2 separate regions of the Homo sapiens genome follow, and region 1 is linked to region 2. The links come from fine-mapping of genetic effects on gene expression. A gene starts in region 2. The other region holds a variant in brackets. All regions are shown on one strand. Distances are from middle to middle.

Region 1 (5,534 bases), 110 kb before region 2:
TTTAGTCTTGGGAGAGTGTGTGTGTCCAGGAATTTATCCATTTCTTCTAGATTTTCTAGTTTATTTGCGTAGAGGTGTTTGTAGTATTCCCTGATGGTAGTTTGTATTTCTGTGGGATCCGTGGTGATATCCCCTTTATCATTTTTTATTGCATCTATTTGATTCTTCTCTCTTTTTTCTTTATTAGTCTTGCTAGTGGTCTATCAATTTTGTTGATCCTTTCAAAAAACCAGCTCCTGGATTCATTAATTTTTTGAAGGGTTTTTTGTGTCTCTATTTCCTTCAGTTCTGCTCTGATTTTAGTTATTTCTTGCCTTCTGCTAGCTTTTGAATGTGTTTGCTCTTGCTTTTCTAGTTCTTTTAATTGTGATGTTAGGGTGTCAATTTTGGATCTTTCCTGCTTTCTCTTGTGGGCATTTAGTGCTATAAATTTCCCTCTACACACTGCTTTGAATGCATCCCAGAGATTCTGGTATGTTGTGTCTTTGTTCTCGTTGGTTTCAAAGAACATCTTTATTTCTGCCTTCATTTCGTTATGTACCCAGTAGTCATTCAGGAGCAGGTTGTTCAGTTTCCATGTAGTTGAGTGGTTTTGAGTGAGATTCTTAATCCTGAGTTCTAGTTTGATTGCACTGTGGTCTGAGAGATAGTTTGTTATAATTTCTGTTCTTTTACATTTGCTGAGGAGAGCTTTACTTCCAAGTATGTGGTCAATTTTGGAATAGGTGTGGTGTGGTGCTGAAAAAAATGTATATTCTGTTGATTTGGGGTGGAGAGTTCTGTAGATGTCTATTAGGTCCACTTGGTGCAGAGCTGAGTTCAATACCTGGGTATCCTTGTTGACTTTCTGTCTCATTGATCTGTCTAATGTTGACAGTGGGGTGTTAAAGTCTCCCATTATTAATGTGTGGGAGTCTAAGTATCTTTGTAGGTCACTCAGGACTTGCTTTATGAATCTGGATGCTCCTGTGTTGGGTGCATATATATTTAGGATAGTTAGCTCTTCTTGTTGAATTGATCCCTTTACCATTATGTAATGGCCTTCTTTGTCTCTTTTGATCTTTGTTGGTTTAAAGTCTGTTTTATCAGAGACTAGGATTGCAACCCCTGCCATTTTTTGTTTTCCATTTGCTTGGTAGATTTTCCTCCATCCTTTTATTTTGAGCCTATGTGTGTCTCTGCACGTGAGATGGGTTTCCTGAATACAACACAGTGATGGGTCTTGACTCTTTATCCAATTTGCCAGTCTGTGTCTTTTAATTGGAGCATTTAGTCCATTTACATTTAAAGTTAATATTGTTATGTGTGAATTTGGTCCTGTCATGATGATGTTAGCTGGTTATTTTGCTCGTTAGTTGATGCAGTTTCTTCCTAGTCTCGATAGTCTTTACATTTTGGCATGATTTTGCAGTGGCTGGTACTGGTTGTTCCTTTCCATGTTTAGCACTTCCTTCAGGAGCTCTTTTAGGGCAGGCCTGGTGGTGACAAAATCTCTCAGCATTTGCTTGTCTGTATTTTATTTCTCCTTCACTTATGAAGCTTAGTTTGGCTGGATATGAAATTCTGGGTTGAAAATTCTTTTCTTTAAGAACGTTGAATATTGGCCCCCACTCTCTTCTGGCCTGTAGGGTTTCTGCCAAGAGATCTGCTGTTAGTCTGATGGGCTTCCCTTTGAGGGTAATCCGACCTTTCTCTCTGGCTGCCCTTAACATTTTTTCCTTCATTTCAACTTTGGTGAATCTGACAATTATGTGTCTTGGAGTTGCTCTTCTCGAGGAGTATCTTTGTGGCATTCTCTGTATTTCCTGAATCTGAACATTGGCCTGCCTTGCTAGATTGGGGAAGTTCTGGATGATATCCTGCAGAGTGTTTTCCAACTTAGTTCCATTCTCCCCGTCACTTTCAGGTACACCAATGAGACGTAGATTTGGTCTTTTCACATAGTCCCATATTTCTTGGAGGCTTTGCTTATTTCTTTTTATTCTTTTTTCTCTAAACTTCCCTTCTCACTTCATTTCATTCATTTCATCTTCCATTGCTGATACCCTTTCTTCCAGTTGATGGCATCGGCTCCTGAGGCTACTGCATTCTTCACGTAGTTCTCGAGCCTTGGTTTTCAGCTCCATCAGCTCCTTTAAGCACTTCTCCGTATTGGTTATTCTAGTTATACATTCTTCTAAATTTTTTTCAAAGTTTTCAACTTCTTTGCCTTTGGTTTGAATGTCCTCCCGTAGCTCAGAGTAATTTGATCATCTGAAGCCTTCTTCTCTCAGCTCGTCAAAGTCATTCCCCCTCCAGCTTTGTTCCGTTGCTGGTGAGGAACTGCGTTCCTTTGGAGGAGGAGAGGCGCTCTGCTTTTTAGAGTTTCCAGTTCTTCTGTTCTGTTTTTTCCCCATCTTTGTGGTTTTATCTACTTTTGGTCTTTGATGATGGTGATGTACAGATGGGTTTTTGGTGTGGATGTCCTTTCTGGTTGTTAGCTTTCCTTCTAACAGACAGGACCCTCAGCTGCAGGTCTGTTGGAGTACCCTGCCGTGTGAGGTGTCAGTGTGCCCCTGTTGGCAGGTGCCTCCCAGTTAGGCTGCTCGGGGGTCAGGGGTCACTTGAGGAGGCAGTCTGCCCGTTCTCAGATCTCTAGCTGCGTGCTGGGAGAACCACTGCTCTCTTCAAAGCTGTCAGACAGGGACATTTAAGTCTGCAGAGGTTACTGCTGTCTTTTTGTTTGTCTGTGCCCTGCTCCCAGAGGTGGAGCCTACAGAGGCAGGCAGGCCTCCTTGAGCTGTGGTGGGCTCCACCCAGTTGGAGCTTCCCGGCTGCTTTGTTTACCTAATCAAGCCTGGGCAATGGCGGGCGCCCCTCCCCCAGCCTCGCTGCCGCCTTGCAGTTTGATCTCAGACTGCTGTGCTAGCAATCAGCGAGACTCCATGGGCGTAGGACCCTCCAAGCCAGGTGGGTGGTGCACCGTTTTTTAAGCCCGTCGGAAAAGCGCAGTATTAGGGTGGGAGTGACCCGATTTTCCAGGTGCCATCCGTCACCCCTTTCTTTGACT[A/C]GGAAAGGGAACTCCCTGACCCCTTGTGCTTCCCGAGTGAGGCAATGCCTCGCCCTGCTTCGGCTCGCGCACGGTGCGCGCACCCACTGACCTGCGCCCACTGTCTGGCACTCCCTAGTGAGATGAACCCGGTACCTCAGATGGAAATGCAGAAATCACCCGTCTTCTGCATCGCTCACGCTGGGAGCTGTAGACCGGAGCTGTTCCTATTCGGCCATCTTGGCTGCTCCCCCACTTCCTTGCTTTTTTAAGGGATCCCTTCAGGTACTAACAATGGCAAACATTTATTAAGCTTTTCCCAAGTTACAGGCACTATTCTAACCATTTTTCAAGGGTCAGACCCTAAGTCTTCACAACAAGCTTATAAAGGAGGGGCTGTTTTTATCCCCGTTTTACAGATGAGGAGACGGAAGTCCAGAGGGTTTCAATCGCTTGCCCAAAGTCACAGAGTCGGGAAGTGCAGAGCCAGGCCACTGCCTGGTTTTAAATTCTGGGTGGAAATGCAACGTGCCGGTCAACATGGTGTGCTGGTGAGTGTGTTATCCTCAGCGGTGCCCAGGGCACAAATGTGCAGACCAGCTGACAGCAACAGCAGGCTCCCCTTTTCTCCATCAGGAACTGTCAGAGGAGGCTGGGTAAGGAGAGCAGCTTGGCCGCCTGGGGCTGCAGCTGGGAGGTCCCAGCACAGCAGCTGCTGGGTGAAAGTGGGTTGTTCTTCTTCAGTAGGAGTTGTGGGCCCAGGTTGCTTTGTTGCCGAGGCCAGCTTGGCCTCTTTGCAAGTAATTGGTAATTGTGCCATTGCACTTCCGCCTGGACAACAGAGTGAAACCTTATCTCAAAAAAAAAAAAGAATTAATAGTAATAACAATTACTGAGTACTTGGTATGTGATATGGTTTGGCTCTGTCCCCACCCATATCTCACCTTGAATTATAATAATCCCCATGTGTCAAGTGTGGGGCCAGGTGGAGATAATGGAATCAAGGGGGCAGTTTCCTCATACTGGTCCCAGGTAACCTCTTTAGCCACACCTGAGAGTAGAAACATCTTCAGTTTGGAAGGCAAGTAAGGGTCCTATCCACAGCTTCCTGCATGTGATCATTGCTCAGGGCAAGGTGACCAGTAGAGCCCTGGGTGAGCCTCCCCTCTACCAGTCATTGTGCGACTAGAATTACTTACAATGCATATTATGCAAGATATGGTGTATGTAGTACATACACACACACAACATGTATATGATTAATTGTAAAACAACTTTTGCCTTTGAATAAATCTTAGCTAAGCCCCACCCTAGCCCTGAGACCATCTCATCAATCTCTGCGAACTTAGTCTGCTCATCTGCAAAATGATCGTATTAAGAGTACCTACTCCTCCCAGACCTGTTGTGAGGACTAGAGATACGTAATTAACGGAAGGCTCTTAGAACACAGCCCGGCACATACTGTATTAATCTGTTCTCACTCGGCTAGTAAAGACATACCGGAGACTGCGTAATTTATAAAGGAAAGAGGTTTAATTAACTCACAGTTCCACATGGCTGGGGAGGCCTCACAATCATGGCAGAAGGCAAAGGGGAAGCAAGACATGTCTTACATGGCAGCAGGTAAGAGGGCATGTGTTAGGGGAACTCCCATTTATAAAACCATCAGATCTCGTGAGACTTATTCACTACCACGAAAAAGAGTGTGGGGAAGCTGCCCTCATGTTTCAATTATCTCCACCTGACCCCACCCTTGACATGTAGGGACTATTACTATTCAAGGTGAGATTTGGGTGGGGACACAGCCAAAAACCATATCACATACTAAATACTCAATAATTATTATTACTACTAATTCATTTTTTTGAGATAGGATTTCACTTTTGTCCAGGCTGTAGTGCAATGGCACGACAGGGCTCACTGTAGCCTCAAACTCCTGGACTCAAGCAATCCTCCTGCCTCAGCCTCCCAAGTAGCTGGGATGACAGGTGTGTGCCACCAGGCCCGGCTAAGTCCAATGTCACATATTGTCATTATTACTGTTACTTTTACAGTGTGGAGTCATTGTGGGACTTAGATGCATAAATGAAATAATTCCTCGCACAAAGTAAGTGCTCATTAAGGGGTACTTTATATTTTTGTTGTTATTACAAAGTTCTTTCTCCCTCATTTAATCCCCACCCCAGATGTGGAGGAAAGCTGGGATTCCTTTTCTCATTTGAAAAATGTTGAAACAGATGGATATAAAAAAAGCAAAATGTCTTGTTCCACGTTTCCAAAAGAGGAAGTATGAAAGGCGTAATTGAAATTCAAAACGTTTGGTCTGAAAATCCTACATCCTTTCTCCTAACAACCGTGAATTCTTACTAAAGGATAAGGCATTAAAGCCTTTTTTGAACCATCTTTCTCTTATGGAGGAACACAGCCTATTAAACCACACCAGCTACTAACTGCCTGCTAGGGTCTGAAAGTGTCCTCCCAGCAGTCATGTCTCCAAGGTGATGGC
Region 2 (5,000 bases):
CGGCTCTCCTCCCTCCCCTCCACATTTTGAGTTGAAGGCATTGGTTAACCTACAAAATGGTGATCTTCCTCCTGATTGTCGCAGTCCCAAGAGATAAAAAAAATCTGCCCTTTCATCTCTACCCACCACATTCTTTCTCTAAGCCTGTAATTGGATCTAAATGGAAAACAAACCCTTTGCAGGCCAAGGAAGTTGGCACTAGGGGGTGACAAGAAGGAGAACATGTTCCACCTCTAATCAGGATAATCACACTCCCCTATGCAAAGGAAAATAAAAACAAGGCTTCCTCCAAGTGGCAACACAGGACTGTGGTGAGGAGGAGGAGTCTCCATATACCTCATCTCACCTCATACAGTAACTATCAACCAGCTTATATTAAAAATACTCAGAATCATTTCACTTTCCAGAGGACAATGGAACTCTGCCACCTTTAGCCGTGAACTATTCTGTGTCTGAACTTGGGGAGGCAGTTCAGACACACAAATATCAATGCTACAAGTTAAAAAATAATGCATAAAATGAAGCCTATGCAAACAGTGTGGTCTTAGCTGGACAGATATTCTCATGAGTCACCCACAGGTTTTTGAGTCCTGCTGTGTGGCATGGTGTGCTATGTTCAAACAGGGATGAACAAGACAGGTTTGCCCTCAAGGAGTCCAGAAAAATGTATAGAGAAATAAGAGCATTGCATGCATAACTCACTACTAGGTAGCAATTAATAGGTATCTTCTAAGAGTCTAAAATGTTATGGTAATTTCTGTAGGAGGGGAAATGACTTGATTCTGCAAATAGCTTGGCAAATGCAGTGAGGCATGATACATTCCAGACAAATGCCCAGATTCAATGTGACTTGGTACCCACATTTAGAAGGATCCACTGGACTCTGTGACAGGGTCTGGGCAGGTGGTCTACAGAAGAGCACAGCTACAAATTAGACAGTGCATGCTGTGCCTCTGAGTGGCTGTTTGTGTCTTTAGTTTGATTCTCACGTCTTTTGTTTTTCCCCCTCTCATTCTACCCTGCAGGTTAATGGCAGATATTTAAGGAAGACTTTGCCCTTCAAGACTAAACCCTGTGAAATCAGAGTTTAACAATGACTGCTTTGGGAAATTAACTCACAGTGTCAGTATCCCTGCTACCACTGCCATGAGGGAGGTTAGGCCTATCCTCCCCACATCAGAGACAAGGAAACTGAGGCTCAGAAAAGTGACCTGGTGAATCATGTGCAGTTAAAAAGTGGCAGGGACTGAGTCTGGATGCCTAGGGCTTGCCTTACAGTCAGCTGCCTGTTAGAACCAACTCTCTGTGACCCCGGGCCTCAGTTTCCCGATCTGTAAAGCCTAGGTTGTCTCTCTGTTCCCTTCCCGTTCACATGTTCTCTAAGTCTCCAGCCTGTGCCTTCTCCCAGCTGCATTCAGGTAGGCAACAAGTGGTATTGGAGCTATAGGCACAGCCGCAGGCTCCTGTGCAGGAGTTTACCCATGACCTTCTGGGCTCCGGGCCAGCCCTTCTTGTAAGGGAAACGTGCAGACCCTGGGGACAGAAATCAGTTCCCTTATGCTGGAACTGCTGCCACTGCCAACATCACCAACTAAAGAAACTGCGTGCGTGTGTGTGTGTGTGTGTGTGTGTGTGTGTGTGTGTGTATTGGGGGAAACACACAAAACACTGGGATAATAGCAAAAGGGAGACTGTGAGTAAATATTACATGCTCTCAACCCTTACTTCAGCCACCTGAGGACAGGGAGTGAGGAAGCTAGGGGTTTTTCCTTTACAGACCATAAGATTTCATATATATATATTATATATTATATATATTTTATATATAATATATATTATATATATTTTATATAATATATATTATATATTTTATATATAATATATATTATATATAATATATATTTTATATATTATATATAATATATATTATATATATTTTATATATATATTTTATATACATTTTATATATATTGTATATATATGTAAAACCTTAATTAAACTTTAACTAGCATCACCAAAGACATAAGACCCTTTGCAAATATTTTACACAACATTGGGTTTGGGGTGTGTGTGCCTGTTAGCTCAAACATGTATTCCCAACTATTTGTTTTCCATGCAGTTTTGGAATTTAAAGAGTTCCCTTCTCATTACCTTTTGGGAAGTTTCCGCGAACAGATGGGAAGGGGAACAAGAAAAAGTAAGAATCTGGGTAAATACAAACAGCTTTCCACTCACCTTTTTAACTCCTGGGTTGAGGTCCTTAGCCACCTTTGCCATCCTCTTCTGGGGTGGGGGAACAGCGCCTGGCTTCTCAGGCAGAGGCGCGAGGGCGCGCAGCGGGGACAGCGGCGGCTGAATGGCCAAGTTCGCGGGCCTGGGAGGGAGCTCTGTGCGCAGCCAGGCGCAGCTGGGCCGCTTTAATTGGAGAGCGGGACTCCCTCTAAAACCTCGCCAGCCACTCCGCGCCGGCGCTCGCGCGAGGCCAGCCAATCCCAGCGCGAGGCTGTCCCCCTCCCTCAGGGAGGTCTCTGCACTGTGGCAGCGAGCGGAGCTGAGCGCCGGCTGCCCTGACGTCAGCATGGCCGCGGCCCCTGACTACCCAGCTCCCTTCTATCCCTCGAGCGGCAGGAATCCGTCCCCACGCCCTTTTCCTTTAAAGGGCAACGGGCCGAAGGTGGGGCGGGCGGCGCGGCTCCCGCGATCCATTCAGGTCAAAAGGGAGAGTGATCAAACAGGAGAGCCGAGGTATTTTTAGTGAGCTGGATCCAGAAATAAATGCTGAGCTGTGCTCCCCTTCCCACCCTTTCTGCCTGGTCGTAGGGGGCGCGGGGAGGGCTGAGGGAGGAGGTGTTTTGCAGGAGCTGGCTAACGTTTCCCAAACCTGGGCGAGTTCTCCAATATCCAGAGAGGAGAAAAGATTCCAGCGAGTTATGATTTTTTTAAACTTAACGTTCGTAAAGTATTAAACTGCTTTCTTATAACTTGCTTTAACATAAATCCTTCTTATTCCATGAGCAAGAAATCACTGTCCTGATCTTAGAGATGCTCCTGTGGACATACTGTCTTGTTGTATGCTCATATTATCTCAGATATTATTATTATTATGACTGTAAGACGATAGATGAGGAAATAATCAGAATAACTGGTCCACAGCTGAATTACTGAGCAAGGCTTTAACCTGAGAGACTGAGAGTAATAGAGAGAAAGCTCATGGGGGCGTGGCGGGGGGGGGGAGGGAGGCGGCGGGCACAGGATTGTAAACTATAAACTAGGAAGTTAGTAATTTTTAGATAAATGGGGTCATGCAGGCCTGGACAAACAAGATTCCATCTGAGTTCACAAATCCATGGAATGTGGAGTCCTTGCAACGCATAACATAACTACTCTTATAAGACAGAATTGGCCAGGTTCCTCTCTCTATGCCACGTTGTTTGCCTATAAAGCCACATCTCTCTGCTGAGCCGGTTCCACAGACTTGGATTCCAGAGGCATTTCCCCCCTGCCCTGACAGAGGATTAAACACAAGCCCTTTTTATCCTAGAGAGAATACTGCTGTCTCTGTTGTGAGGTGTTCGGCCTGTAACCCGTCTTTGCAGTGCCCCCTGCCAGAAAAACCAGGGTCCCGTGGGCTAAAATAAAACTCGGTTGCACAGAGACTGAAGAGTGGTCCCGAAGTACACCATTCGGGAGGGATTTGGTGAGAAGGGGAGGCTGCAGTTCCCACTGTGGGGCTGTCTCTTGCTGGAGGCTTTTTCCTCTTGAAAGCCTCCTCCAATTTAGTTCTTATCATCATCTCCAGTCATCCCAAATCTCAGCCAGGGATCCTGAATTGTGACTTTTTATTACATATTCCTGGAAAGGGCTTTTTGTGGCTTATCTTTTCCAAGATGAGGGATGACCTATTTCTTTTTTCACAGATTTCTGCTATAATTGATTTTTGCCTTGTTTGCTCCCAGCTATGTCCTCAAACACCTAGCATGTGGTATAGGCACAGTACACATTTGGCAAATGAATAGAGGTTGGGTTCTGGCTTTTATTTTTTTTATTGATACATCATGATTGTACATGTGGTATTTTGATATATGCTTACAATGTGTAATGATCAAATCAGGGTGTTTAGGATTTCCATCACCTTGAACATTTATAATTTCTTTGTACTGGGAACATGTCAAATCACTTTTAGCTTTTCTTTTTTTTTTTTTTTTTTTTTTGAGACAGAGTCTCGCGCTGTTGCCCAGGCTGGAATGCAGTGGCGCGATCTCGGCTCACTGTGACCTCTGCCTCCCAGGTTCAAGTGAGTCTCCCACCTCGGCTTCCCAAGAAGCTGGGACTACAGGCATGAGCCACCATACCTGGCTCATTTTTGTATTTTTAGTAGAGACAGAGTTTCACCATATTGGCCAGGCTGGTCTTGAACTCCTGACCTCAAGTGATCCTCCTACCTTGGCATCCCAAAGTGCTGGAATTACAGGAGTGAGCCACCGCACCTAGCCTCTTTTAGCTATTTTGAAGTATACAATTCACTGTTGTTGACTATAGTCACCCTACTGTGCTGTTGAATGCTAGACTTTTTCTTGCTATCAGACAGTGTTTGTTCGCATTAACCAACCTCTGTTCATCCCCTCACACCCCAGCCCACCATTTCCCAACCTCTGGTAACCTTCTTCTACTCTCTACCTCCATGCAGTAAGCAGGCAAAGTAAGAATAGGGAGAGATGGTGCAATGGCACACCTGGCCTGGTTTGTCCAAACTTCCAAGGTAGGCTGCATGTTAAACCAGTATGTAAATAAACAGTGGCCAACAGAAGCCTGGCCTGGGAGAGGAGGTTTCCACATGAATAGTCCTTTCAGTAGCAAATCCTAGGAACAATAGTGCTAAATCAGGATGTCATGCCAGAAGCCTTTATATTTTAGAGCTGTGGGAACAGAAGCCAGGAATATAACAAAGGCAAGCTTTATCCCTTTCAAACGAGGCAAAAGCCTGCCCAGTGAAGTCATTT

The links. PIP is the estimated chance that this variant, and not a neighbour inherited with it, causes the effect. A credible set is the group of variants that fine-mapping cannot tell apart.
Region 1: its variant is the best candidate, but not a certain one, in a credible set for the expression of LMCD1-AS1 in nasal epithelium (TOPMed, PIP 0.78).

What each region holds. Positions count from the first base shown.
Region 1 is chr3:8,609,273-8,614,806 of GRCh38, reverse strand. It overlaps LOC107986009 (a long non-coding RNA gene), which reads left to right and starts at 2,864. Exons shown (of 5, transcript XR_001740420.3): 1 at 2,864-2,949; 2 at 3,448-3,579; 3 at 5,215-5,534. RefSeq lists enhancers at 2,367-3,247, 3,248-4,129. The variant A/C (reference allele first, on the strand shown) is at 3,050.
Region 2 is chr3:8,499,216-8,504,215 of GRCh38, reverse strand. It overlaps LMCD1-AS1 (LMCD1 antisense RNA 1), which reads left to right and starts at 2,558. Exons shown (of 4, transcript NR_033378.1): 1 at 2,558-2,745. LMCD1 (LIM and cysteine rich domains 1) reads right to left here and starts at 2,393. Exons shown (of 6, transcript NM_014583.4): 1 at 2,236-2,393. The coding sequence starts at 2,277. RefSeq lists enhancers at 3,872-4,805, 4,806-5,000.